6 separate regions of the Homo sapiens genome follow, and all the other regions are reported to be linked to region 1. The links are microRNA targets in miRTarBase. Many come from high-throughput screens and were not tested one by one. Region 1 holds a microRNA gene; each other region holds the end of a gene's coding sequence.
Evidence for each region. The annotated mature microRNA hsa-miR-4789-5p reads GUAUACACCUGAUAUGUGUAUG and lies in region 1 at 3,508-3,529, opposite strand. An mRNA with a match to its seed (bases 2 to 7 or 8) in the 3' UTR can be bound and repressed. Matches are read on the target gene's strand: a 7mer-m8 pairs with bases 2 to 8, a 7mer-A1 pairs with bases 2 to 7 and ends in A, and an 8mer does both.

Region 2: the mRNA of TIPRL is a reported target of hsa-miR-4789-5p. Seed matches in the 3' UTR shown: 7mer-m8 at 2,525-2,531.
Region 3: the mRNA of ENDOD1 is a reported target of hsa-miR-4789-5p. The part of its 3' UTR that is shown has no 7-base or 8-base seed match.
Region 4: miRTarBase lists TECRL as a target of hsa-miR-4789-5p. Seed matches in the 3' UTR shown: 7mer-m8 at 2,478-2,484 and 7mer-m8 at 2,486-2,492.
Region 5: miRTarBase lists LRRC63 as a target of hsa-miR-4789-5p. Seed matches in the 3' UTR shown: 7mer-m8 at 4,298-4,304.
Region 6: miRTarBase lists DYNC1I2 as a target of hsa-miR-4789-5p. Seed matches in the 3' UTR shown: 7mer-m8 at 3,750-3,756 and 7mer-m8 at 2,742-2,748.

Annotation. Positions count from the first base shown.
Region 1 is chr3:175,367,953-175,373,080 of GRCh38, reverse strand. It overlaps MIR4789 (microRNA 4789), which reads right to left and starts at 3,541; the gene lies at 3,460-3,541. The region is part of intron 5 of NAALADL2 (N-acetylated alpha-linked acidic dipeptidase like 2); the gene reads right to left.
Region 2 is chr1:168,199,279-168,204,406 of GRCh38, forward strand. TIPRL (TOR signaling pathway regulator) reads left to right here. Exons shown (of 7, transcript NM_152902.5): 7 at 625-2,831. The coding sequence ends at 768. Among named protein-coding and RNA genes, the nearest start is that of TIPRL, 23 kb to the left of the region's middle.
Region 3 is chr11:95,128,804-95,133,931 of GRCh38, reverse strand. It overlaps ENDOD1 (endonuclease domain containing 1), which reads right to left. Exons shown (of 2, transcript NM_015036.3): 2 at 1,287-5,128. The coding sequence ends at 4,353. Among named protein-coding and RNA genes, the nearest start is that of LNCRNA-IUR, 19 kb to the left of the region's middle.
Region 4 is chr4:64,275,437-64,280,564 of GRCh38, reverse strand. TECRL (trans-2,3-enoyl-CoA reductase like) reads left to right here. Exons shown (of 12, transcript NM_001010874.5): 12 at 366-2,863. The coding sequence ends at 493. Among named protein-coding and RNA genes, the nearest start is that of TECRL, 130 kb to the left of the region's middle.
Region 5 is chr13:46,276,002-46,281,129 of GRCh38, reverse strand. It overlaps LRRC63 (leucine rich repeat containing 63), which reads right to left. Exons shown (of 10, transcript NM_001282460.2): 10 at 4,015-4,540. The coding sequence ends at 4,327. It overlaps LOC105370194 (a long non-coding RNA gene), which reads left to right. Exons shown (of 3, transcript XR_941946.4): 3 at 4,418-5,128. It overlaps LOC124903170 (a long non-coding RNA gene), which reads left to right and starts at 1,289. Exons shown (of 2, transcript XR_007063785.1): 1 at 1,289-1,344; 2 at 2,235-2,706.
Region 6 is chr2:171,746,767-171,751,894 of GRCh38, reverse strand. It overlaps DYNC1I2 (dynein cytoplasmic 1 intermediate chain 2), which reads right to left. Exons shown (of 18, transcript NM_001378.3): 18 at 1,737-4,119. The coding sequence ends at 4,006. Among named protein-coding and RNA genes, the nearest start is that of DYNC1I2, 62 kb to the right of the region's middle.

The DNA of each region.
Region 1 (5,128 bases):
GGTTGCATGTTCAATTGCAGCCAAGTAGTTACCAAAATTATTCCTCATTCTGAGGCTGCCTGAACAAAAACACACTAAGTACAGATCAGGAGACAGTATGACCACTGTCTGGCCACAAACGTAATACTATGTCCTGTTCTTTCTAACATATTTTAAGAAAGCACTTCACTTTGGGAAGATGATGATGCTCATAATGAGAGATGGCAAAAAGAATGCTCAAGGTAACTGGAATTGCTTTTAGCCAGAGAAAGGGAAAACTTAGTTGGGATCTTACAGCCATCCTAAAATACTGCAAGGTTAGTGTGGCAGAAACTGCTGGATACTACCCCAATTTTTCCTTACTTCTTCATTAATAGAATTACAATTCTATTGAGTATGGCAACGTGCCCAGGTATAAAATGTATTTCATCAAATCCCATTTTAGTTAAGGCCAATGAGGCATATGTTGGTCAGGACTTTAAGAACAGACCCTTTAAAAGATCAGTTAGCCTTAGTGGGCATGTGCCTTTCTTCTTTCTCCAAGTGGAATATTACAATGATGACTATAGCTTCAGCCTTTATCAGCAACCATGAGGAAAAGACAGAGAGCTTGGGTCTAATATCTTCAAGACACTGAATTAACACCAACGCTTCATTCGATTTCTCATTTTGTGAGAAAAATATTTAGAGAAGTATTTGGAGAAGTCCACTGTTAATGAGTTTTCTGTTACATGAAGGAAAACACGAAACTCTAACTGATACTAGGTAGATATAGAGAATGCACAGACATGCATGTTTTCGCTCCAGAAGGCAGAGCGTGAGCAAGCTAAATATAGCTAGGTATTAGGTCAGTATGATGAAAAATGTAATGATGGAGCTTTACAAAAACTGAATGGGCTAGCTAAAAACATAGCGACTCCTGTACTAGCAGTTCAGTAAAGTCTGCAGGGCAACACGCCAGCTACACTAAATGAGGTCTGCCTAGGAAGCAGTGGAAAAAAAATTTTGTGAACTCCTAAGGGTTATTCCTTTAAACTCTAAGATGCTATGGCTGGACTTTTTTTAGAGTAATTATATTTGTCTATTTCATGTTATGGTAGGAATTTGCCCTAAGGAAGTAGAACTAGTTTAGCTCAGAATGGCAATATTTCTTCTAAAACTTATTAGGAAACTAGAAGGAACGCTTTGTGGATGTAGTTTTCCTAAAGGTCATGCAGAACTTCCAGGTATTACAGATTTTGAAAGATGAATAATAGCCATTTTAGTGGTTATCTTTTTTTTTTTTTAATAGATGGAGTTGTCCAGGCTGGAGGGCAGTGGCATGATCTTGGCTTACTGCAACCTCCGCCTCCTGGGTTCAAGTGATTCTCCTGCTTCAGCCTCCTGAGTAGCTGGGATTACAGGCCCCTGCACCACACCCAGCTAATTTTTGTATTTTTAGTAGAGACGGGATTTCGCCATCTTGGCCAGGCTACTCTTGATCTCCTGACCTCAGGTGATCCACCCGCCTTGGCCTCCCAAAGAGCTGGGATTACAAGCATGAGCCGTCGTGCCCAGCTCATATCATTCTCAAAGGACTTTTGTAGCACACAGAATGGTTTCTAAATAATATTATCCATATCTTGACTAACACGGTGAAACCCCATCTCTACTAAAAATCCAAAAAATTAGCCGGGCGCGGTGGCGGGCGCCTGTAATCCCAGCTACTCAGGAGGCTGAGGCAGGAGAACGGCGAGAACCCGGGGGGCGGAGCTTGCAGTGAGCCGAGATAGCGCCACTGCAGTCCGGCCTGGGCGAAAGAGCGAGTACTCCGTCTCAAAAAATAATAATAATAATAATATCATCCATAATATTAGTTGATAGTCTCTTCATAATTCTAAATCCAGCATTTTTCAAAGCATTACCAATGAAGGAGAACTTTTAAGATGAAGCTAAATATAAAAAAAAAGTGAATTACTGCAAATTACTATACATAGTATAATTTGAAATTTTGGTAATATTGTCTAAGACAAATCATCCTTTTGGGATAGTTTTTTTCCATACTGTTCAAACTACCCTTCATCCTATAACGGCAGACATGGCCTAATGATTCTCATTTTTAATCAACAGTGTTGTCAGACATTTCAATGATTCTGAACATAATGTTATGACATTCAGGGCCAGAGAGCAAGCATTCTCTACTTGCTCTCAGCTGAAAGCAAAGAGGTTCTCAAGAGCTGCCAGCCTTTCTCCTTTATGCTCTGAAAGCCTCCTAAACTTGTCAGTTTACTTCCATTACCCTTTTATTGAAAACAATGAAAGAAAAAAAGTTACTACGGTGTTTATACTTTTAAAGTGAATGTCTTTTGTAATAAGGTAGAAATATCACAGAACCATCGAATGTTGGAATCAGAAGCATGTTTGGCATATCATCAAGTACAATAGCCACATCCTGCCTATGTGGAAAGCTGGAGGGGCTAAAGGACCTCTCAAAGCTACACATGTAGAGTCAGCAGCAGAGCAGAGCTTAAAGCAGCAAGTGACTCTTACGGCCATCAGTAATCACACTCTTGCTTAACATGCAAATGAATAAAGCTATTTTTATAAAATCCCTCCCCCCCCCATATATTGGCAGTAACTCTAAATTCTAGTCATTTTTTAACCATTACAGAATAAGATTAGAAGCATCAGTAGTTAATGGTGATAATAATTTCCATTTTATATGGGGTTTTATGGTTCACAAATATATTTTATAAAATAAGTTTCTAACATTTCATTTTCTTATATTGAGGGCTTTTAAAAGAAATAACCAAAACCTATTTTATTAAAATTTGATATTTAAAATTATAGTTGAGAATAGTGGAAGATTTTTCCCATTATCTTTGCTCTCCTGGATAGCAACCAGATAAATGACTTCCCAGAGAAATGCATAGAGTCATATAAGATAAAACGTCTTTTTTTCTCCATTTTACTCAGAGTTTGATGATGAACTATGACTGGATATTGAAATAATCATTCTTTTATCCTTTGTAGTAAGGCTTACTTTGTCCAGTGGCAACATGATCAGACAAGCAGCTCTCAGATGACATGTGACAATATTAAATTCAATCTTAGCAAGCAGCTTCTCAATTTCACACTTGTGGTAGCTGGATTAACCCAATTATTTTTTGGAGGTTAAGGGAAACTTTCACATTTGCAGAATACCATCCTTCAGAAACCGGAATGTAGGATTTTGTTATCTCAAAGAATTTTATGGAGATGGAAAGATCAGTTAGTATTAAATTTTAGCACACAATCAGATGAAGGGTTTAGGAAGAAGTAGATATGATTACCTAATAATTCACTTTGAGTTCTTCACTTTGAGCCTCAAAAATGTGTGAAACTTGGGACTTTTACTAAGCATATCTTTCAGGCAAAATATTTTCATTGTACCAGTTCCAAGCTCTTGGTTCTAACACAAAACCCCTGCTACACATACACACACATGCACTCACACACACACAGGCTACCTATATATACACCTGCTATGTGTGTGGATATGTATTTACACATACACATATCAGGTGTATACATACGTAGCATGTATATATACACATACACACACACGCACACAGGCACACACATACTTGTTACCTATATATGTATACATGCACATATCAGGTGTATGTAAATGTAACATGTATATGTACACACACGCACACAGGCACACACATACTTGTTACCTATATATGTATACATGCACATATCAGGTGTATGTAAATGTAACATGTATATGTACACACACGCACACAGGCACACACATACTTGTTACATATATAATTACACATGCACATATCAGGTGTATGTAAATGTAACATTTATATATACACACGCGCACACAGGCACACACATACTTGCTACATATATATACAGTCAGGTGCTGCATGATGACATTTTGCTCAAGAACAAATCACATACATGAGGGTGGTTCCATAGATTATAGTGGAGCTGAAAAACTCTAGTGGCATTGTTCTCATTGTGACATTAGTGCAATTACTTAATTTTTAAAACAAATTTAGTGTAACCTAAGTGTACAGTGTTTATAAAGCCTACAGTAATGCATAGTAACGTCTTAGGCCTTCACATTTGCTCACTGCTCATTCACAGATCCACCCAGAGCAACTTCTACTCCCACAAGTTCCATGAAAAGTGCCCTATACAGGGGTGGCAATTTTTTTTAATCTTTTATATCATATTTCGCTGTACCTTTTCTGTGTTTAGATATGTTTAGATATACAAATACCACTGCATTGTAATTGCCTACAGTGTTCAGTACAATAACATGCTATGCAGGTTTGTAGCTTAGAAGTAATAAGCTATACGACATAACCTAGTTGTTTAGGAGGCTACACAATGTGTTTGTGTTATGTGCACTCTATGATGTTCTCTCAACAATGAAGTCACCTAATGATGCATTTCTCAGAAAGCATCTCCATTATTAAATGGCACATGAACGTATTTGCTACATATATACATACTGGCTATAAACACACACACACACACACACACACTCACACACACCTGCTACAGTCCTTTCAAAGTATAAAAAAAGATACCAAAATGTGTTAGAGATTCGTTTGTAAAATGTAACTATTTTCGGACCAGATGGATTCACAGCCGAATTCTACCAGAGGTACAAGGAGGAACTGGTACCATTCCTTCTGAAACTATTCCAATCAATAGAAAAAGAGGGAAACCTCCCTAACTCATTTTATGAGGCCAGCATCATCCTGATACCAAAGCCAGGCAGAGACACAACCAAAAAAGAGAATTTTAGACCAATATCCTTGATGAACATTGATGCAAAAATCCTCAATAAAATACTGGCAACCCGAATCCAGCAGCACATCAAAAAGCTTATCCACCATGATCAAGTGGGCTTCATCCCTGGGATGCAAGGCTGGTTCAATATACGCAAATCAATAAATGTAATCCAGCGTATAAACAGAACCAAAGACAAAAACCACATGATTATCTCAATAGATGCAGAAAAGGCCTTTGACAAAATTCAACAACGCTTCATGCTAAAAACTCTCAATAAATTAGGTATTGATGGGATGTATCTCAAAATAATAAGAGCTATCTATGACAAACCCACAGCCAATATCATAATGAATGGGCAAAAACTGGA
Region 2 (5,128 bases), not on the chromosome of region 1:
TGGATGTTCTTTACACTTACCACCCTGCCGCCTTATTTCTTTCTACATAGTCTCCTTTTCTCTTCCGAAAATGTGGTGATTCTGTACCATAATTTGTTTGTTTTGGCATCATTTTTCTTTATTTTTTACTCCCCGGGACCTGTGAAGCCTTCCTTAGAACTTAGGATTCTATAATGGGTTGCTTAAAAATTGGTACCTTCCTATAAACTTGATTTTATTTTTTCACGCTTAGTATGTACTTCTGTCTGGGTATAGAGTATACTTGGAACAGAAAAGTTACTACTTAGATTCTATTGTAGACTACATGCTGTGCTCTAACCGAAGACTAGTGTTTTCAAGTTACAAAAGCAGGAGATACATAGGGTTGGATTAAGATGTATTAAATTCTTAGGACATTTGTGGGAACATTATAGATTATATAACCCTGTGATCTTTGATGAAATCATTCAGTAACAAAGTTGAATGATTCCGTATCAAGAAATACCTATTATTTTTAGGAGCACATATGCATATATTGCACCTGATTTTAAAATTTCCATGCTTTATGAATGCTTGAACCAAAACATTTGTAAAAAATTTCAGTACAGTAACTGAATATGCTAATATGATTTATGTATTTCCTAGCATGTTCCACCTTCCCTCTTCACGGAACCTAATGAAATATCCCAGTATTTACCAATAAAGGAAGCAGTTTGTGAGAAGCTAATATTTCCAGAAAGAATTGATCCTAACCCAGCAGACTCACAAAAAAGTACACAAGTGGAATAAAATGTGATACAACATATACTCACTATGGAATCTGACTGGACACCTTGGCTATTTGTAAGGGGTTATTTTTATTATGAGAATTAATTGCCTTGTTTATGTACAGATTTTCTGTAGCCTTAAAGGAAAAAAAAATAAAGATCGTTACAGGCAGGTTTCACTCAACTGCTGTTTGTACTGTCTGTCTTCACATTCATATTCCAGATTTATATTTTCTGGAGTTAAATTTGGATGATTTCTAAATTATCACAAAGTGGGACCTCAGCAGTAGTGATGTGTGTGTCTCATGAGCAGTGAGCACAGTCTGCATTCATCATGAAACACTATCTTCTACCAGGAGGAGGTTAATGTAAATCACCAAATCCCAATGCCTTGTGACTTTCATAGGATTCCTGATCATGCATGTTGATGTACTGGCTCTTCACTTTGGGCTTTCTGATGTTTATTCACACCTTTGGAGAGTTGCAACTTGCCACATACGAAATTAGTCTCATAGTGTAGTGAACTTCAACCCCAAAATTTTAAAAATGTATTTCCCCCCAGTTTTAAATTGCCTTTGAAATTTAAAAAAAAAAAATTTAGACTTAGTACCAGAACCAAAAATACCTAGATTTTTGGAGAACTTATTACATACATAGAAACATGAATATGGTTTACCACTGTGTGTGTGTAGGATGTTAGAATTATCTGTCCTCCATCTTTAGGTGCTTTTTCTTAAATGTGGTTCTACTTATACTGATATTTTTAATTTCCATCTTCCATGCAACCTCAGAGTGAATAAACCCCTTAAATTTGGTGCTGGTTCGAAAAAGTCTAAAGGGTTTATTAGGGGTTGTTTTTCGCAAATATTACATCAATCCTTAAAGCAACAAGATTAATTTTCTGCTTAAAATATTTGGGAAGATAGGTAAGGAGGAGGGGGTTTTAAAATATAAAAGCAAGTTTTTCTATTTTAAGGTGCATATTTGTAACATTACAGGGGATGAAGTAAAATGTAATTAATTAGCACAAGACTTAGGGAGTACAGAAAATACACAGAAGTAAATTTCAAATCCATTTGATTGTTTTCATAGTGACCCCTTAGTCATTTTATATTCTTGTCTGCCTTTCTAGAAAAATGGTTGTCATAAAGTGGAAAGTGATTAAAAAGCATCAAATAAGAAATTATTTCAAGTGGATTTTTAAAAATATTTTTTTGAAGGGCAGGGGGAAAATTCACCCCTTTTCTGATTTGAAATATGTTGTACATATTTCCATTTGATGGATAAATCATTAAGTAAGAATATTTGATTTAAAGTATTAGCCAACCTCTTCAGGTATTAGCCTGAAGATAAATTTTAACAAAACATATACACTTGGGTATCCGTCATTGCTCAAACTCTATAGTGTATTGCTGGAGCCAATAGGCAGGGTATATTTTATTAGCTAAATTTGATATTTGTCTTCTGCCTTCTGTATCACCTCCAAGCTATAGGAAATCAGGATTTTGTTGGCTTTAAGAAAACACATGGTATGTTCACTGTATATTAAATATACCTGTATTTAATGTTTTCTCTTAGGACAGAAAAGTAGACACACACACACACACACACACACATGTTGTGTTCAGCTTTCTGTTTTATATTATTTGCCATTGAGATTAGAATAGAACAGGCTCTATTCATGCAAACTATATGAAATGAAAAACTTTTAAGACTCTTCATTAATTGGAGCTTCTGGGCAACATCGTGTGTGTGTGTGTGTGTGTGTGTGTGTGTGTGTGTATACAGACATTTTTTTTTTAACTTGTTGATTCAGATGTCTTGGTCCCTGAATAGTCCTAGATTACTTATTTTGAGAATTCATTGTTAAAAATTACAGGGAATTAAAATAATTGCCTTTTTTTTTTTTAGAGGGTAAGAGATGGGTAGAAGAGTATGCCTCTGAAAATTTTATTAGTTTATTCTTGTGGAGAATACCAAGAAAATGTGTATTTGCCCATTGCTAAATATGATATATGCCATTTTGTATTTATTTGTCCCAAGTGTCTTTTTGTAAGAGGAGAATAAACAATAAGGAATTACTGATCAAAGTTTTACTATTTCATTTATTTGAGTTTTTCTTAGAGCTTAATTAAAGAAGTGTGGTTTGGGGTATACTTTTCTTATTTGTGCTTTATGTTTTGAACTCAGTCAACACTGTAGACAGTCTCCAGGCAGGTTATAAATTAAAACCTAACTGATGGTTCAGAATACAATTTCCCAGTTTGCATTTGGGCTCTTGCCTCTCCTCTCCCTCTGTTCATCAATATTTCCATGGATGTTTTTTAACAGTATTTTCTGTATGTTGGGTTAATGTTTTTGGTTTTTGAAAATATGAATACCTGTCGTATGTATTAGTTTTGAGTACTATATGTACAATTATGGTGCTAGGTATAATAGATTACAACAATGAAGCGATGTAGTATATGTTTTTATAGGATTAAAGTCTAATGGAGGAGACAAAGTAAAAAAATTACTAATTTTAATATGTGCAGTGATGGAAATGATACTGACAAGAGAGTAACAGAAAATCAACTAACTTTAGTAGAGGTAGTCAGAGCTCTGCTTCTCAAGAAGATGTGGAAAACCTCAAGAGACTGTCATTCCCATTTTAACAAGGAGAAAAGGCTGGGTCATCTATAAAATTAAAGCTTTTTTTCTTGAACATATCAAAGAACTGAAATTACAAGGCAAACAAACCAAATCCCAAAGAGTGATAAGCCCTACAAGGAGAGATGGGACATACTGACTGTTTAACCTTAGGAAGAACCCAAGAGAAAGAGATGGCCTTTATATAAACAGGTAAAATATTGGCAAAAATTTTAAGAAATTCCTAAAGTGTACATGTGGGCTAGCATACCAGTTTGGAATAGCCAAGAATCTGAAATAAGGGAACTTCATACACACTCACAAGTTCTTTCCCAAGGGCCTACACCAGGACTTAAGAAAGACTGGAAGCAGGGTGTGGAACCAGAAAGTCTCAGTAGGTGGTTTAAGCAAACAGAAGGTAGTTGGCTGCCATGAAATTCTGCCTGCTTTCAAGCTCTTCTCTTGAATGATGCAAAAGCCTTAGGCTATTGTAGGGAGGAACAACAATCATTCCTAGGGCCCAGGCAGAAATTCATTGCTCTGGGGTAGGAATGTAGACAAAACCCATCTGCTTTTGAGAGAGAGGTAGGAAATGTTCTGCCTTCAGGACACAGGAAAACAATATTACTGCTGGAAGAGTAGAAGCAAAAATTGACCTTGGAGGATAGGCAGAAAATCTGGGCCCAGGAAGCCACATGGATAACATAAAGAGGTCTGCTCCCAGTGGGGAATGAGCATGAAATTGTTGCACAAGACCAACAATAGATTTGAAACAGATTTTGACTACTATTGAGAAATGGTGCAGGAATGTTGAGAAAGCCACATCCCTGAAGGCCAGGCACACAAAGCCTGCCTAAGACCGAGGCTAGCCAAGGACAAAAAACCCCCTGTCTCTGCTATAAGCCTAGCACTAAGTAACAAGGAAAACCAGTCTGTTGAGGAAGCAGCAAGGGTGTAAATATAGATCCTCTCTGTGGTGTAGGCATACAGGGATCCCTGAAAATTGAGGGTGGGACTCAGAAAAGTCCTCCTGTACTCCAGGTGCACTGTAAGCATAAGGTAACAGCAGTCAACCACTGGAAGAATTTGAAGCCTGTAGTATACTGAAGATAGTGACAGCATTAATCCAACCCAAACCCCTAAAAACTGGTGTCTACATTGACACAATTTCCAAACTAATGGTCTCTGTGTTAGTCCATTTTGCATTGCTACAAAGGAATACCTGAGGCTGGATAATTTATAGACAAGAGGTTTATTTTGGCTCATGGTTCTGCAGATTATACAAGAAACATGGTGCCAGCATTTGCTTCTGGTTAGGCCTCAGGAAGCTTTTACTTGCGGCAGAAGGAAAGGGGAGCTGATGTGTCACATGACAAGAGCAGGAGCAAGAGAGATGCCAAGTTCTTTTTATTTATTTATCTATTTTATTTATTTATTTATTTACTGAGATAGCATCTCAGCCTGTCGCCCAGGCTGGAGTGCAGTGGCACCATCTCAGCTCACTGCAGCCTCTGCCTCCTGGGTTCAAACGATTCTCCTGCCTCAGCCTCCTGAGTAGCTGGGATTACAGGCATGCGCCACCAAGCCCAGCTAATTTTTGTATTTTTAGTAGAGATGGGGTTTCACCATGTTGGCCAGGCTGGTCTCGAATGCCTAACCTCAAGTGATCCACCCACCTCGGCCTCCCAAAGTGCTGGGATTATAGGCATGAGCCACCGTGCCTGGCCCAAGCTCTTTTTAAAAAACCAGCTTTC
Region 3 (5,128 bases), not on the chromosome of region 1:
ATTTTGGAGGCTTGATTATGAGATAAAACTGAATAGTGCTGGACACATGTTGAGTTTCAGTTTTCTGACCCTTCTCTTTTGAGACTCCAGGTCCAACCCTCATCTGTACCTTCAGATTCATGGACACCACTGATGAGGTTCTGGCTTGCTTCATTTTCATTCATGACTTTGACTCCCAGACCACACTTTGATCCTGGTTCTTCCAGCGTTGATCTAGAAACATCCTAACCTCTAAGGCACCATCAAACCAATTTTGTCCAAGAAGTGTAAATATCATTGCCCACAATAGATCTAGCAACAATTAACATTTGCTGAGCACTTACCATGTGCCAAGCATGGTAAGTGATGAATGCTTTATGTTCATTAACTCATTTAATGCTCATAGCAACCCTTTGAGATAGGTACTCATAATTGTATAGATGAGAAAGCCGAGGTGAGTAACTTGCTGAAGATCACACAATAAGTGGGGAAGCCAGGATTTGTGCCTACATCATTTTGACTCTAGAGCGTGGGCTCTTAATCATTAGGAAGTACTGGCCTCCAGAAGTCATCTTACATCCACCTCCTCACAATGGATAATTGAGGATGACAAGTGGTTATAAGCACTTTCTTTGTTGAAATTTAAGCTTAAAAATTGATTTGGAGTTAGACATCAATCCATGACCTGGGGGAAAATACCTACAAAGAGAGACAATGGGAAGACTGAGAACCCATTAATGAAAAGCAAGCAGTCCACACTATATGGCTTGTAGTGTAACATTTGGACAAACACGTATTCTGTGGTGAGCTTAGGCAAGATGCTGCCCACACTGGGAAGGCAGCCAAGAATTACTGCCACCTCCACCCAAGAGGATCACCCTACTAAAGGCCACAGAGAGGACCAGCCCCCGTCAGAGACTGCTTGTAATTTCTCTCACTGTGGGAGCTTCCTAATGAATAAACAAACTAATAAAAGTATTTCTATAATTTTCTATGTGATTCAGATTCAGTGAAGCAGTAAGTCTTTGGTGCTTAATTATGCAAGATATCAAAAACACTTATTGTCCCAAATACTTTGCAGAGCAATAACATTAAAAAATAGTTCTAAGTCCTGTTTCACTGATCCAGACCTCTCTGTTTTTTCATGTATGATGCAAACTTTTAAAGAAATGAACAAAAGCCAGTCACTGGAAGCTGCTTGAATTAATGCGGATCAAGAAGAAAATGGCAACAATTCACAGTCCCCAAGCCTCATTTCAACTATTAGGATTCTCCCCTTTTAGATATTTTACAGAACTGCTAACGAGTTGTCAGTAATTACTTTATTGAGCATCTGCAAGGTGCACATCATTGTACATAGCTTGAAAATGTCAAATTGAGTTTTGTCACACCCTCTGTAAAGGCTTCCCTAATTTCCATGGTTTCGTGGTTTTTCTTCCTCTGTTCCAAGGAACATGTTATTAGTACCTTTACTGCAGCACTTACTTGTCCTTCATGTGTTACGATTGTACCATGTGTTCTCTCCACTAGGTTTTGAACTCCTCAAAGATGAAATCCATGCATTGTTCATCTCTGCAACCTTGATGTCCAAATACGTGTTTGACAGATGAACGAATGACTGAATAAATGAAGGATGGTTCACTTTGGTTCCTCCTCCCAACTACCTAGTCTGCATTTAGATCGAAGTGCTGATGCTGAGTGAGAAGACAACATTCAAAAGGCACAATGGAAAAGAGAAGTGTCCAAAGGCATAGCTGATCCACAGACTAGAAAATCAGCTCCATAATGAGGAAGAGGCTAATCCCAAGGCCTCAGAACATAACAGAGCCACAGCAAGATCTTTAAGCCAGAGTTGGGGTTCATAAACCCCAACCTCTACCTCAAAGCCCAGCGTAGCTCATTAGGAACAGGCCAGCAGTCCAGCCACCTGCTGTGGCTTCACGTCCAATGCAGATGGTTCTAGAGACCCACAGGCACAGCCACACTAGTAGCTCAGGGCAGTGGGTCTCAGCCACCTATCCTTACTGATACTTTTTGCTTTATTGTCCCTTTTTAGGTTTCAAAACTGGCCACCCAAGAATAAATAGACACTAAACAATTGGATGTGAAAAAGAAAGACATTCCCCAATGGTTCTCAAGAAGCCGTTTGGATGCTGTGCTCCTTACATGGTGCTAAGGGGCTCAAGCTGCCGTGGATGCCCTTTTCGGACCTTTCAGTATGCAAATATGTGCTAGGAGGGAATTAAGTTTCCATGGGATGCAGTAAGCATAATGTTGTACATGGATGGCTAATTGTTTTCATCACACATGCCAAATCCAACTGCTTTGTCAGGGCCTGGAGTCTGTTTGATGAATGAGGAAATCTTGCCATGGTCCAGAGAGGCAACTGAATAATAGCACGAACTTCCCATGTCTGACATCTCAGGTGTGATGGGACATGTGCAAACAACGTTGGCTCCTAATCTGCTCTCAGCTAGCCATGAAACTAAGGGCTAGCCTGTTGCCTCCCAGGGCCTTGGGTTCCTTATCAAATAATAGTTTGGCTGGACTGTCCCTCTGGTCACTTCTAAAATTCCTTTTCTTTATCCAGCAGGATTCTTGACCAATCAGTACCAAGTCAAACCCTCACCCTTCCATTTACCTTCACACTGCTGAAATAAAGGGACATCCAAACTTTATGCTCCCTAAGACAAGAGTTGGTAAAATACTGCTTTAAGTTTCTTAGCTAAGCCTGGTGCACATCTCCCTAGCATGGACCCATGCGGTGCTCATACTCCCTAACCTTGCATCACAAATTGATCAGGATGGCAGCTTGCTGGCTGCTGTTCTACTCTGGGTGTGCCTCCGCTATTTTTCTGCAAAATGTAACTCTTGCTACGCTCATGTTTCTCATCCATCGACCCCATGCAAATGGTTGACATATTGTTCTCTCCTTGTTGGGACCCCGAATTTTTGCATATAACTTTCTGATTGATCCTGGGCGGTAGCCCCAAGATCAGTATTTCATACTTGGCTGTTTCTACCTCTCAGCAATTCTTTAAAACATTCAGAAAAATCCAGGTGATTCCATCCCAATTGTGGGAAGCAAAGTTTGGTCCCTCTTGTTACCATTTTTTAGTGCAAGATTTAAAATGACAAGTGCTTGATCAAAAAAATTTTGAGAATGAGCTCTCACATTTAATTTGTATTAATGGGGGAGTTATGTTTGTAGCCTCAAACACACTGTAAAAATAATTTCCTAAGATATAATTATTCTTAAATATTTTATATATTTTTTTCAGAGATGGCCACAATAACTTTTATCTTTATTTTGTGGCTCTTTTCTATATAGTTGTATCAAAACAACCATTTAGGGACATAAGTCAGAGTATTTTTACTGTGCTGGGTACTTATTTCATGCATTAGAAAAATCTACTATGTTGCAGAATATGAATTTTCATGTTAGCTTAACATATAGATCTTTCAGTTCAACCTTGTCAGGCAGGGATACACGTCAAGTTAATCCAAGCTGGACAAAAGATGTCCTTGGATCTGCAGCACCTACTAAGAGCAGGGCTGTCCACCTTCTCTTCTCTTCTTTCCACCGGAGAGGACTGTATTATACCATTCAAGGGGCCCAAAAAAAAAAGAAAAGAAAACTTTGCCCTTCAATTCAAACTCTGTTATGCCACATTTGGCATAAAATGCTTACCATTACCTAAAAATGATTTTTTAAAAAATGCTTATCATTACCTAAAAGAAAAATGTAGCAAAATTCAACTTTGGAGGAAAATGAAAACTGTACATATCCTTGAGAACCACGGAAAGCTAAGAGATATAGAAAATTGTACATTCCCACAAAGTTATTTCAACAAAGAGGCATTATCTGCATTCCACCAAGGTCAGTCGAGTTGAGGAGAAAGAGAAGCAAATGCCAAGAAATTGGCTGCAGATTTTTTTTTTAATCTGTTTTGCCTTAAATCACAAAGAGCAATGGGAAGAACAAGCTCCCTTTCTCCTTTTCTCAGACACCTTTGGTCTAAAGTTGTTCTTTTTCTAGTTCTTCCCTCCCCTGTAATTTTTAATTATCAGAAATAAATACCAGTGCATTTCAGGTGGTCGTCTGTGTTAGAGTGCATAACTGAAGTTATTAGTGGCTTGGGAGTTTGCACATATAACTGGAGGTAAACAGCAGATTACTACACCTAATCTCACCCTGAGCATTTCTCCTCTGTCAAGTCTAAATTCTGCCATCTTCTTTTGCAAAAACAAGCAGACATCCCCACCAAAGGCCAAAATATAATGATAACTGACAGTGAACAGAAACCCATTGTAAAGACAAACTATTCCAGCTTTCAAATTCACTGTGACTGGATACTATTAGTTTTTTGAGTTTATAACTCCCCAGAATTGTCAAAAGTAACCTTGTAGCCAATCCGCTTGCAGACACTAAAAACCACCTGAAATAGGCCACCCAGGGTACCAAAAGCAGTGTCAAAGAGCAGTGAGACAGTGCCACCAAGGCCCAGTGCAATGTCCTTGCAAACAATTGGAATAGCGCCCATGGTGTACACAGGGAAAGTGGCCACATCCACAAGGACACGGACAGGGATGCTCAGAACTCGGCAAATGGCCTTCAGCAGACAACAAAGGATCCGGAGGAGAGCCCTGATGACTTTGGCCACGACCTTGAGCACCTTCCAGGGAATGCTCACCAACTCTTCCCCAATGGCCATGAAGTATGAGATGGTGGCTGAGCCCAGGCGGTAAAGGCAACTTTCTATGCCATTAATCACCTGCTTGGTAACACACCACAGGAAATAGACAATGTTCTTCAGGATTGCTACCACAAGGTAATAAATTAATTGAAAAAGCTTGATGAATGGGGTAGCAATGAAGCCCATGAGTTTTCCCAAAAAGCTACTACTTCCCTCAGATGCCTCTGGAGGCAACAGAGTAGACCTCTTGCTCCTGGTGCTAGAAAGGGGACTAGAACTCTTTTGAGATTGTACCATTCGTTCTTCATCCTGGATTTGGTTAACCACTTCCAGGATTTTTTTCATTTTCTCTGTGTCTTGCTCAGTTTCACCACAGTTGTTCTGAAACAGCTGAGGGTTAAATGGAAGCAGTTTCTGAAGATCTTTTACCATCACATCTTCTATGATGTCAC
Region 4 (5,128 bases), not on the chromosome of region 1:
TTTTGAATCACAATTAATGTGGTTTATTATATTATGTGCATGTAGAGGAATATTATATGCATACAGGCAACTATTATTGAAAATTTTTAAGTACAAAAATAAATCCTTATTTGGGAATATTTTGTGGCAGTGGTATATAAAATATGTAGATTCATTTTTAATTTTTAATGTATTTTCTGTGTTTACTCATTCATGCGATATTGATTGGCTATTGCTTGGGAATGGGTATGAATAATGAAAATTGATAAGAAATTATGCAACATTTGAGAAACATCTTAAAAGCTAAACATGCTAGGGATCCTTTTCCTAATATAACATTTCATAGAAATAAGAAAGAAATAATAATTATTTCTTTTTTCTTCTAGTTGGAATTTTTACACTTCTGATGAGTATCCAGATGTCTTTGTGGGCACAAAAGAAACATAAGATTTATCTGAGAAAATTCAATTCATATATTCATAGAAAATCAGCAATGATTCCATTCATATTGTAAAAAAAGAATCTTATCTCCTATAGAAAACAGCAACATATAAATTCAATAAATAAGACTTAGTTAAGGATAGTTAACTATTATACTCCAACAATTCATGAGCAACAGTATATACACTGAGTAAAAATATAAAATAGTAAAATTTCACTAAATTTAGAGAAATGCACATGGTAATAAAAAGTATAAATTATAAATGCAATTAACTAAGAACAGCTCTGAATGTATTTGCATGGGATTGGTCCTTGAATAAAATTGTCTTACTTCATTAATACTTCACAATACTATTTGCATAAGACAAAATACCACAGCAAAAAAAAAAATCTGATTAACAAATGAAAAAGCGATCTGAACAGACATTTCCCAAAGGAAGACATATACATGGTCAATAAGTATATTTTTAAAATGCTCAACATTAACTATTCATACAGAAATGCAAATCAAAACCACAATGAGATATCATCTCATCCTAATTAAGGTGACTATTTTCAAAAAGACAAAAAATATGACAGCCGTGGTGGTTCATATCTGTAATCCTAACACTTTGACAGGCCAAGGCAGGGGAATTGCTTGAGTTCAGAAGTTTGAGATCTGGGCAACATATTGAGACTCTGTCTCTAAAAAGCATATTGAGACTCTGTCTCTACAAAAAAATTTTAAAAAGTAAAAATTAGCTGGGCGTGGTGGCACATGCCAGTAGGTAGTCCCAGCTACTCGAGGTTGCTCCAGCTCAGGCGTTCAAGGCTACAGAGAGCCATGATTAAACCAAGGCACTCCAGCCTGGGTGACAGAGTGAGACTGTCTCAAAATAAAATAAAAATAACATATTGGTGAAGATGCGGGAAAAAAAAAAGAACTCTTAGACACTGCTGGTGGGAATGTAAACTAGAGCAGCCATGTGGAGAACAACATGGACTTTCTTCAAAAATTACAAATAGAACTATCATATGATCCAGCAATACCATTACTGGAAAAAGGAAATCTGTATATTAAAGAGACATTTGAACCCTATGTTTACTGCAGCACTATTCACAATAGCCAAGATATAGGAGCAACCTAGGTGTCCAACAACAGATGAATGGATAAAGAAAATGTGGTATATATACACAATAGAATACTATGCAGCCATAAAAACTGAATTCCTGTCATTCAGGACAACATGGATGGAATTGGAGGGCATATGTTAAGTGAAACAAGCCAGGAACAGAAAGTTAAACATTGCATGTTATTACTTATATGTGGAAGCTAAAAAAATTGATATCATAGAAGTAAAAAATAAAACAGAGGATACTACAGGCTGGGAAAGCTGCAGCAAAGGGAGACTAGAGAGAGATTTGTTAAAGGATACAAAGTTACAGCTTGGTAGGAGGAATAATTTCTGGTGTTCTATACCACTGTAGGACGACTATAGTTAAGAACATTATATTCCATTTAGTTTCAAATAGCTAAAAGGAGATTTTGTCCCCAACAAAAAGAAATGATAAATATTTGAAACCATGGATACTCTAATTTCTCTGATCTGACCACTATAAATTATATGTATTGAAACATTATTATGTATCTCCCAAATATGTTCAATTCTTATGTCGCTCAAAAAATAAAATTTAATTTAAAAAGTATCTGATTTTTAAAGTAAATATTTTTTAAAGTTTTGACATTTAAATTACTTGAATCTCATTATTTTGACAATAATTTAATTCTTTTATTGTTCAATCTGTTAGTGAGATGTGTCATAGGTATTATGTCATTAGTTCAAATTCTTGCGGAAATTATAGCTATATTAAAAGTGTAACATTTTTATTTAGTTGTGTACTTATTTGTTAATAATACAGACATTGTATGTTATCATACTGAAATTTACAATTAAAATATTTTCTGTAGATTATTTGAAAATCATTCTAAATATATATTTTGAAATATATAGATTATATTTGTATGTAAATTATATTTATACATCTTCTGAAATATATTTCAAAATATGTGTGTACGTGTGTATATGTGTATATATATACACATATATATACACATACACAAATATATGCATATTTCAAATGGATTGTATGCACTTGCAAAGCAAAAGTACATTGGTAATTTGGGCACATTCAGAGTGGAAAAAATTTGTTCTATTTTTACATCTTTAAATACCTATCTTCTATGAAAGCCTATGTGCATGTGTGTGTGTGTATGAGTTTCTATGTGAGCATGCATATATACTTCACAAAGAGATGACCTATATAAATCAAAGTACACATTATTTAAAATATTTAAAAAAATTTTCAGTTTCTTCATTTTTAAATTGTGATTTTTAGATTTGTTAGTCTATGGAGTATTTTCAATTCTCAGATTATACATATGTTATAAAATATGTTCATTAAAGCTCTTAGATTATATGCATATATGACAATATATACATATACAACTATATACACATATACAACTATATATATGTGACAATATATTGTAAAGCAGGTCTATATACACTGGGTAGGGGCTGTTTATTACTAACATATGTGGCCACTAAAGAAATAACAAAAAGCCCCTTTAAAAGCCTTATAATTCCCAAAGCATACTATTAAAATTTCTAAGGAGAAAACAATAACAACAATAAAATTCTCACTCCCTAATATCTATTCAGCTAAATTGTATGATATCATTTAATGATCTTAAAAAGAAATGTCAATGCAGTAAATCATATATACCTAATGCAGCTATATGATCAACTACTTGTGATAAATGTCCCTTTTTTGAAAGACTAAGAATAGTTTCTGTTTTTGTAACTCGATCCTGACAAATAGTAACCTAGGAAGTTTGCACATTCTTGTAGGACTAGAAGAAGGACTTTAAGTATGGGGTACCTATATGACAGACATTTTTTTTCCCATTATACTACACTCCCTTATGCCAGTTGCTCCATCATACTTTTTTTGTATCAGTTATTCCCTTACTGTTGGCAGACATACCTTAGTTAAAGGATATCTTAATTATGAAATGTGTTTTTTAAATTTATTTCTCATTTTTATTTCCAGGTGGTCTCACTGCCTAAGACATCAAAAGAAAAAGCCTGACAAATTTACACCATCTTGTTGTCAATATTAATGCTACAGGTATAATCCTGTAGCAGCCATGTACACATTTTTAGCCTTTAAAACCTAACCTTCATTTACAGGTTTTAGGAGTTACTATACATAAGTATGTACACATATGCATATGTATATGGGTATGTGTGTAAATGTGCACACTTACAAACTTTAATGATACTCTAAATTAATATATAAGATTTATGTAAATAATAAGTTTGCATTGCTGGCTAAAATATTGTGCATTTATTTTAATATAAAACAAATCTATATAATCTCACATATTCATGGTTTTTTGCCACATATCTAAGTAACTTAATTTTAGCTTATGGAGTATTTTGCAGGAGCAGCATTCAACACTGCATAGATTAGTTGTAAGTGTCTCAATTACATTTACATATCAGTGTGTTTGGTGGGGAAAGAAGATGAAAAATAAAACATTTGAATATAAAATTAAAATAAATAAAATATGACATTTATTTATGATAGATGTCATAATTTGATCATATTCATAGGAAAAACATTAATGAAAAATTTAAATGCAGAAAAATATATACACACATTATACAAATTAACAATAACATTACTACCACAGTTACTTATTGAAGTAATATGCTGTCTTTAATATGTTTCATTATACCATGTTCTCTCAGAGTTAACACTCTCATCCTATAAATAAAAGATATATTCTCAAATTCTAAAATTCTTGTGTGTGTATTTTCAACAGTTGTTATTTTTAGGTCAAGAAAAATATTATGACAATATTAGCAACTGTTAAATTCTATGCTTTGAGACGTATAGGCCTCATTTCTAATTTAATAAGGTATGTATATATTTGATATTTTCATAAAAGCAATACAGGGTTTGGCCAAGAAGTTTTGCCGTCTGTGAAAGGCATGCATTTGATGCTATTATAAGCCATATTAACTGGAGAACATTTCTAAAATACCTCCATTTCACATGCAAATTTTATACTCTATATATTGATGGATTTGTTTATGAGATTGAGAGTCAGATGTAGCAATTGGTGAGAGAGGAAACAGTTACAAGGCAGCCTCTACTTTTTAGATAGTTCGCTTGTTTAAGAGACAAAACAAGTTCAACTTTAATTGAAATATTGCATATTTGCTTGCTTAATTACTGTTAAACCTTAAATTAAATATTCTTTATAATAAGCATGTCTTCGAACATGAAATAAAATTAACAAGTCTGAGAGTGAAACTTTTCCCATTATGAGAGACATTTTAGTCAGCCTCATCACAAGAAGACTTTTGCTTTCCTCAAACCATCCCATATTTCTTTTTGACACTTGAAAGTATGCCTCTGCTTCCTGTATTTCTTTTAAACATTCTGGAGCTTTTGTTGTTTTGTTGTAACTGTTGCCAAATTTATAATTGTTAGATGACAAATGTCCTTAACAAGTGTTTTTCAGTAATTGTGCCTAAAGAAATACAATTATAATTGCCATCAAACTAATTTGGTATGCATGCTTTTACCTCCCAAACCATAAATTGTCCTCTTCCTTCAGGACACTGTAAACCTTGAATTAGAATCAAATCAACAA
Region 5 (5,128 bases), not on the chromosome of region 1:
GTAGTAATTAAGATTCCTGGATAGTATTCCCAGAGATTTTGATTTAGTAGGTTGGAGGTAGGTCTGAGAATCCATATTTTTAACAAGTGTATGAATGACGCTAATGCTGTTCTTAAATTATATAATACAAAAAAAAGCACTACTGGAATAAGGAAAATTCTTCTATATACAGCTGCATCCTTATAGGTACTTAGTGTTTAAGTAAATGCAAGAAGCTGGTTAACAATATGTGGGCATCTGAAGGAAATTAATGTGAAATAGACTTTTCACTCTTAAATCTTTTTTGAGCTGGGTAAAGTATGCTAGTATTACCTATTTAAAAAGCAAATAAATACATATTTTTCCCAACTCCCAATTAAATATAAATGAACATACCTTTTGACCCAGCAATTTACTTCCAGGAAATTATACCACAGATATATGTAAACATACAAACTTATTCATCACAACATTTTTTTCCAAGCAAGAGGTTAAAAAGTTAAAAGTCCATCAAGTAGTAAACTGGTGAAATAAGCTATATATGTTTGCCCAATGGAATAATATGAAACCATAAAGAAAGAACATAAACTAATAATGTACTGATCTGGAATAACCTCTATGACATAATTTGAATGGAAAGATGCAGAAAGGAGTATATATTATGCTAATATTATACAGATAAGGAAGAAATATATGTATATGTTAGCATACATATGCATAAGCTATCCTGGAATACAAAATGATTGATATCATTGGTTGTCTCTGAGAAGGGAAAAGGATGCCAGGCATCAGGGTTAAAGAAAGAATTTTTATCCTATACACTTTTTTGTACCTTTTGAGTTATGTGACTATGTTACCTAGTAAATATTTTTCAAAAACTAGTTGGTAGATATCTTTCCATTTAAGGAAACAGTTATCTAATTTTTAAATGACTGAATGATAGTGCCTTGTATGGATTTACATACATATTGATGAACTCTTTGAATGTTTCCAGTTTTTCACTATTGTAAATATCCTGGTGGTAAGTATACTTGAATATATTTTTAGACATACGCACAAGTATTTTTTAGCAGAAAATTATTAGACTTATTATGGTAAAAAACAAAAATTAAATGTTGATTGTTATAGCTATATTAAGGTCATCTTTTGTTGTTATTGCTACTTGTAACAGCTTATTGGATGTCAGGATGTTTTAGAGGTCTCTGACAGTTCCAGATTTTAGCTGTCCAAAACACTTTTTCTTCCCCTAGTTTTCAGTTCTAGAATTCTCCTTTCTTGTGGAGAATCTAATTAGTATGTTTTGGGAGGGGCTAATTCTGCCTTACCCAGTTCCAGAGATGGGCATGTGACTCAGGCCTGGCCAGGGTATGCCATCCATGAAGCTTTAATGATTTGTTTGTATTTGGATTTGTGACCCAGGCTGAGCCAATGAAAATCATCCCTAATGTATTTTACAGTAACAGTTGGGATAGACAGTGTGTTTTCCTCTGAGGTTCCTGAGATTCTTGTACATGAACCTGGAATGATTAGTGACCATCCATATTACCTGGATATGAGACAAAATTTTTAGAAAGTATTGGTAAGAGATAGATGATAGATAGATAGATAGATAGATAAATAGATAGAGTGAGCTAGATTAGATAGACAGAAAACTAGATAATGCCTTGATGACACAGTTTGAGTCCTGAATGAGTTGTGCCAGGAGACACATGCACAACATATATATATATTTTTTGTTGTTGTTGTTGTTGAAAACCTCATTCTTTCTGGTCATATATAGTATAGATATGTTCCCCAGTGTGCTGCTTGTCTTTATTTTTGGTTATTTTTGCTCGACAGACATTTAAAAATTTTTTACATGGTAAATTTGTTCATCTTTTCTTTGAGGTTTCATTACCCGCTTTTAAAAAAATCTAAATCTGATTTTTTAAAGACCATAGCTATTTATTTTTATATTTCAACTTAGACCTTTAGGCCTAAAATTGGAAATTAATCTTTGTTGTGGTGTGAGGCAGATAATCCCATTTTTAAAAAAAGTAATACATTATATAAATGTATTACACATATGTATTACACAAATGTATGCACACATACACATGTTGAAATGATTGCCTCTGACTTTCATTGGTTGATGGTGTAGCCGAGTACCCCATTTTTAAAAGGAAAAAAATGATTTTTTTTTCTTTTTCCTTTTCCCCCGCTTCCTACTTAGCTCTTTAGGAATGCAATTATAACCTTTACCTTCTCTCCATCAGGTATGGCAAGCTTATCTATGTGTTTACTTAGAAGTTGCAGAGACCAAAACTTGAAGCAAATCAGGCCCCTCTGGAACTCTCACCCACTAAGAGATTGCCTCAATTTACAACGTAGCTGCCTGCCATGGCGCCAGCCAGACCACATGATAGATAAGACATCTGAAGCAAGTCACACAGACCCCGCACCTCCTCCCCTCCTCCCCATCCCCCCTTTAAAAGCCCTTGCCTTCTGCCCTGAAGGCTGAAGTGGTATCTCAGGGCAGGAGCCTGTACTACTTCCCCTCGGGTAGCTCTTGAATTAAGTCACTTTTTTTTTCCCACCAGACCTTGCTCTTGTTATTCAGACTCTGCAAGCAGTGGATGACTGAACCTGAGTTACAGAGGCATTACAAGGAGGATTTTGTTTTCTTCTTAGGTTTAGTTGTATTTTCTAATATTTCTATAATAAATATGTCTTACTTTCATTAAAAAATACTGTAAGTTACTTTTTTTGGAAGATCTATAAGAGATCACTCAGATTCAAGGTTTATACTAAGCATGAAGAGATTGGGTTCTAAGTATATTTCATATTTGTCTAAGTATCTAGGTATATTTAGTTTTGAAACGTCCCTCAGAATTTGTCATTTCCCTTGAAAGCTATTCTTTTTTATTTCCTATTTCATTGAGAAATTACTCAGTTAAACCAAAACCCAACATGTTTTGAATAAATAAATAAACATATTTCTTCCCCAAGAAATATTTCAGGAACAAGGGTGAGTATTAATAAACTATATGCCACAGGGAGTTAGTATTATTTTCTTCATCTTGTTTTCTAATTATGAGTATATTACATTTTAATGAATTAATTTATCATACTATAAATATCCCTTTCTGCATGCATGTGTAATATGGTAGTTACTTCTCTCATTATAAATAATTTTATTCTTATGCTGGAGAATATAGTGTATACTTATCAAGCAAAGTAAAGTTTACCTGATTCTGCTGAAAAATGAAACAGAGTCTCAAGGAAAAGCGTGTAAGCATTGCAATTTATTGAAATCAATAGAAAAATTATTCTGCCTGATTTATCTTTATTTAAATGATATCACTAAAAGATACACACAAACATGACAATGTATATTTTCTGACATTAATGATGATAGCTGTGTAAATCATTTCATATCACTAAATTTAGCAATGATATTTGAGATTTAAGTGAACTGTGTGTAAAGATATGTGAAACAATTCTATGCCATTCTAAAGTTGTTTGTATATCAAAATGCCCTTTTATCTTTCTCTTACCAAACGTTAATTCTTAAAGTAAGTTTTACTATATGTATATGCTGCTTTGCAATGTTATTTTGTAAGCTGTATTTTATTTTTGTGTCAGGCTATCACTGTAGGCCTTGGTAGATGCTGGTGCTAGCCTATGGAATCAGACTAATGTCCAGTTGCTCAGCTTTAGGACATGAAGTTCAAGGTAACAATTAAAGACTGTACCAGTTCTCTAAGAACCTGGGACATTAATTTAAACAAACAAATGGGGATAGAATTAATCTTTTATTCCCCAAAACAACCTACAATTGAGATGGAAGGTGCTGGTCAGATTTCCACAGAAATGCACAAGCATTGAGCACTTGGATGTGTGACATTGAAGCTCTATGCAGCACATACCCCACTGATGACTCTGCAATGCTATCTCATCACTTAGTATGGATGCATGAAAAGACCAGTTGTAAGACATAACCCATTTTGCAAAGGATTCCAACATTTTTCCTTTTATAGTAAACAGGCTCTGAAAGAAATTTTCTAGAGCTTTATTCAAATCTAAAGGCTTTACTAATCCTCCTTGAGTAATTATTCTGCAACAATTCCCAAACAATCACAAACTTTCATAAGGAGCTAGAATTACAAAGATAATTCGTATGAGAAGACACTTATGTCTTCCAAACAGAACCTCTACTTTCAAAGAGATGAATTACTATATGCAGATATATATGCAGTAAAAGCCAGTAAAGTTTATATATATATATGAATATATATATATAAATATATATATATATAAATATATATATATATATATATATACACACACATACGATAAATCATTGTACTATAATTCTTTTGACAACTCCACATCTAGAGCTATTCTTCTACTAGGACTACCATCTAAAACAAAACTGCTTTCCTTTATTCTTCTATAGCAAGAAGGAGAACAGACATAAAACATAACTGGAAGCTGTGATGCTCCAAAAATATCACAGGATCGGATGACACGAAAACCTTCACCAAACTTGGGACCATGACACCATTCACACCTGGATGTGCTGAAATGGAGGAAACAGCAAGTCAATATTTAATAAATTTTTACTAAAGACTCTGTGCTATGCAAGACTCCAAATAGTATAAAATACTGCCCTTACCTTCATTGAGCTTACCAGCTAGGTGAGTGCTACCCATTAAGTGAAAGACTAAACGCTAAAAAAGCTGAACAATAAAGTAGGTATATGTATAATACAATCCTAGCTTTTTAAAACAGAAAGGTATATATGCATAACAAGAAAAAACTCTAATGATAGATCCCAAATTGAAAATAGTTATTATTCTTGGGAAATGTGATCACAGGGGTTTTATGTTTCTTTATAATGTGTTTCTTTATTTTCTAATTTTTTATAATAAACATGTTATTTTTTATGATACAAAATAAATATATCATTTAAAAAAATAAAGGTACTATCATAACCTAGTATGGAATTAGAGTCCATAATGTATTTTTAAATGGTTAGAAATCAGTTAAAAAATATTAATCCATTAGTACATTAACATTAGTACAGGAATAGACTATTCACAGAAGAAGAAAAAATGAATGTCAAGAGAACACAGGTAAAGCTTTTCAATCTCCCTAGTAATCGGGG
Region 6 (5,128 bases), not on the chromosome of region 1:
GTGGAAACTATCAGTGGCTAAAAGCTACATACTGAAAACTTAAATTCCTGCTATCCATTTGAACTTTTAGAAGTTTGGGAATTGTGAACATGGCAGGCAGAAAGACAATCTAAATACCTAAAGTCCAACAAAAGGAATGAGAGAACTGGCCTATTGTGAAAAGCATTCCAGTGTGATGGATTCCAAGTTTTATAGTTGGTATTCTGGTTATCAGTGTAGGATTTTTCTCTAAGATGGACTCCATAACATGTTTCCTATTTATGAAAAAGGATTTACAAAATATAATACAATACAAGCAAATTACTACCATTTGGGGGCTGTAAAACTTTTGAAAAAACTGGTTAAAAGAAGGTTCCTAATTGTAATCTTCCCCTTCAAAAGAAATACTGAAAATGGCTGTTCTCTTAATACTGCCTTTGGGGCAATTTCTAATTCTCTGACAGCATTAGGAACCCCTAGATTTGTAAGCCAGATCTCTAAGTAAATAATTTCACAGCATCAATAATTTTTAATTAGTAAATGATAAGTTCCTAGTTGGGAGTGACTTTTCCTCAAACCTGTAAGGTCTCTAAGTTGCCTAGCACAGGGGGCCCCAACCCCTGGGCCGCAAACCAGAACCAGTAGTGGTCCATGGCAGGCTGTATAACAGAAGGTGAGCGGCAGGCAGGCGGGCGGGCAGGCGAATGAGCAATACCACCTGAGCTCCCCGTCCTGTCAGATCAGCAAGTGACGGTATTAGATTCTCAGAGGAGCGCAAACCCTAATAATGTGAACTGCACATGTGAGGGATCTAGGTTGTGTGTGCTCCTTCCTTATGAGAATCTAATAATGTCTGATGATGATCTGAGGTGGAACAGTTTGATCCTGAAACCATCTCCCCAACCTCCCTGGTCCGTGGAAAAATTGTCTGCCATGAAACAAACAGATGATGGCTGGTGCCAAAAAGGTTGGGGACTGCTGGGCTAGCAATCAGCAAGATGGTAGCCTAAGGAAAGCAAGATCTCCTTTCTTGTTGCTGTGTAGCTTGGATTAAAAACAAAACTCAATGGGAACCCCATTACTAAGTCATCAAGAAGTAAAGCTGTTGGCTTTTTAACCTTGGCTTATCCTGAAGACTAAGACATGACACCAGCATCCTAGATGATAAGCAGCATCTGGAGCTGCATTTGGAGCTCCATTCTCTTTAGCATACATTTAATTATACAGCTTTCTCATTTAGAAAACTATTAGAATGTCAATGTTGAAATACTGGGGTTGTGGAAAAGACATTTAAAAATACACCGCCCAGTGAGTGGCAGGTGACCACTGAAATTTATGGCAGCGCTTTAGGGAAAAACAAACAAACAAAAAAACCTACTGGCTTTCTGACTTAAAAGTAATGCACTACTCAATATAAAGCAAAGATAGTATGATATGCTTCACAGCAGATTTTCACTCATCCATTCAAGTCTTTCTGTATGGTTCAAGGGGTGGATATTAGTCTATCCACACTAGTACAGAACAGACTAAAACATTTTAACAACACTGAAAGACTAGGACCAATCATTCCTAAAACGACTTTCCTATAGTTCCTCCCACTAAATTTTAAGTCATCCATTCCTTTGAGATGCAGTATTTCAGCATTATTGTAACAACATTTTATACAAAGAGATTTTCTAAACTTTATAGGGAGCTGGATCTGTAAACAGGAAGAAAGCTTCTACCAATGCATATTTGGTTTAAATAATACCAAAAAATGATTATTTCAGAGATTTATTGCAAGTTAATTGTCTGTGAAGCTGGATATTCCTTAACATGAAGGTAATAAACTTTAACGTTCCACTCAAAAAGACAAAAACCAAACAACGAAAAATAAGAAATTAACCAGAAAGCTATAGCTTGTTTTCTTACTCAGAAAAAAAGTATAACTGATAAGGTACAATTTCTGTAACTGGATATTTTTCAAAATTATAAGGCTTTTAGTTCTAAAAGTATAAAGAACTGTGATGCACTTCTAGTCAACCTAATCTTGCTAGAAGCTTTATCAACACTGACAGTCTCAATACTTTCTCTTTTGCTATTATATAGTCAACTTTAAAGGTAATTCCTTAAAGTAAATTTGTGTGTTCCTAAAAATATGGACTAAAGTTGAATGGGCAAAGGTATACATCGCATTTTCTGGGGGAGTAGGGGAGAAGTCATTCCCAAAAAGTGAAATATTTAAACAATTTTATTCTTTCTTTCACAACTAAACACACCTTGAGGCTGAGGAACATGTGATTTGCCATATGATTTCCAACCTTTTCTTATCCATTATGTTTTAACACTTGTTTTCCCTACTTTTAGTCATTTTTACAAACTGAAGGTAAAGATACAGTAACTACATGAGTAGTGAGTACATGAATTTTTCTATATAAAGAAAGTGTGACTCTACTAAAATTGAAGTTTTGACTCACAGACACTGCTACAATGAGATAACTTGAGATATTGTCTTTGGTATATAATGGGCAATTATGGGGTATTAATTTATGAAACTGAATATAGAAAAGTAAAGAATTGCCTACTTTTCTATATTCCATTTCACATACTGATACCCCTTAATTGAGTAGAGCTGAAAGAAAATTCAGAAATCATTAAATCAAAACTTAATTCCTACATATAAAGAATGCGGCACAGACTTGGCTAAAATCACACTTCTCATAGATGCTTCAGCAAGAATCAGAGTTTGGGGCCAATAATTCCAGGTCAATTATTCCTTACACTATACACTACTCATTATTTGGAAATTTCTCTCCCAACAAATCTTTGTTACAATTATTAAAAGAAAAATGTTCACATTCTGTTTTCTAATCTCTCTTCCTAGTTCATGTTCTGTTGAATAAAAGACAGTTACACTTCAGAAGTACAAAAGGTTGGGATCAAATAAATAGACAATTTAAAGTAGATAAAATCAAGATCTGATCATAGTCCTTTCCTCTATTCCTGAAATTCACTGATTTCAATACTGATTCTTAGATATTTGTCACCTACCTTTCGGACTTGTAGACAATGCTGTGGCAACAGATCTCAAGATGTAGATTTTAATGCCAAAGTATGGGTCCATTTGAGCACTTTGCCTTTATGGCTACTGAAATCATGAAATCAATTTCTCTCAAAGATTTTACTCTCAGTGAGGTCACATACATAGTTCTTAATCAGTGAAAATTATAGGCAGCTTTCTATTTATCCTTTAAAGGAAATATGTCTTAGATGGAAAGAATATAAAGTAGTAAAGCAAAAGTTAACCTAGGGGAAATTTTTTCACCAACAGATTATCTAGACATCAATTCATAATGCACTGGGAGATCTATAGTATATACCACATGGTATATTTAGGGTACACAGCTCTATAGGATTTGAGATGGCTGCTCACAGCAGGAGCTTAAAGAAAGATATGGAAAAAATATATTTTATAAAAGATGGAAAAATTCAAGTTGTAAGGAGTAAAAATGAAAATTTGAAAAGTTAACGCATATTTGTTTTTATTTATAGGTAACTACCACATGAATTATAAAGACAACAAAGGATGTCAGAATGAACATGGATAGGTGTATGCATACTACGGCTAAGGAGAAACAATGTTCCTACATATTATGGGTAGTGAGAACATTATCTGTATAACAGGGAACTGTGATTATTTAAAAATATGCAGAACTTATTTCATCTGTGCTTTAGAAATAACTGTATACAGTGTTATAAGTTGAAAAGAACTCAAAATAACTAATACCAAATATACACCTATGTATTAGAATTCAAAAAAGCTGCTTTCTGTGAAGTCAATCAGCTATATTAAAAAATGACACAAATCCAAAACAAGATGCATGTTATATATAAAGGGACATTGTAAGTTTCCTTGCTGCATTAAACCCATGGTTTAATCCATGAAATTTCCTTTTAATTATCATTTAGACAGAAGCATGCAAATAGTCTCAGGATCTACTTAAGAACCTTTCCCAAATCCACTAGTTACACTCCCCTTTTCAGGAACTAAGCAGGTATTCGGGTAGCTGCTTCCTCCTCTGCATCAGCTCGGTTTGCATTAATTTCTGCAAGTGTTCGGCCAAACCGTGCCCATTCATCATTGCGGGGAACAGCAATCTGCTGTTAAAAGAAAGACAATGTTTTATATACAATGAAATAAAAGATCATTTTACCCACTATTATTCAGTTTGTTTTCAAATAATTTTTCTGTTAAAAAGTAATAATTGACCTGAATGGCCTTTCCATAATTACGGGGACTATAACAATGATTTACAACATTTCAAAACAAAAGACGGTGTTTGTGAAGTGTGTTGTGACAGCCTCAGAAATGACTTGGCTATTATCACCACCAATGCAAGAGAGAATAACAATGATGCTTTGTAAATATAACTCCTATGCACCATCTCATGGATTTTGCTGGAGAGGAATTCCTTAAAATTTTTTTTTTACTGTATTCTTGCAAAATTCCTAGTAAGAAACAGTGTTTGAAGCATGGTTCATAAGGGGGCTCGTTTCTTGTAAGTATTTTTCTTTGGAACATAAGGTAATCTTTCTTGATACCTTAACTCCTTCATCAAAAGCTGTGCTACTATTTACCACTTTAGTGCTGCACTGGTGGCAAAAGAGCCTTGTGATGCTTTACTTCAGAGGCAGCCCAATAACATATATATATATATATATATATATAATTTTTTTTTTTTTTTGAGACAGTCCCACTCTGTTGCCCAGGCTGGAGTGCAGTGGCACTATCTTGGCTCACTGTAACCTCTGCCTCCCAGGTTCAAGTGATTCTCCTGCCTCAGCCTCCCCAGTAGCTGGGATTACAGGTATGTGCCACCATGCCTGGCTAATTTTTGTATTTTCAGTAGAGATGGGGTTTTGCCATGTTGGCCAGGCTGGTCTCGAACTCCTGACCTCAGGTGATCCACCCGCCTCATCCTCCCAAAGTGCTGGGATTACAGGTGTGAGCCACTGCGCCCGGCCCCAATAACAAATATTTTTGATAACTGCCATTATAATATCATAGGAGTCTGACACTGTCATGTTAGGGCACAAACCACTCACTGTGGCAAATGGCTGTGCCTGTTTATAAATCTACACTATCCAGTAGGGTAGCTACTGGCCACAT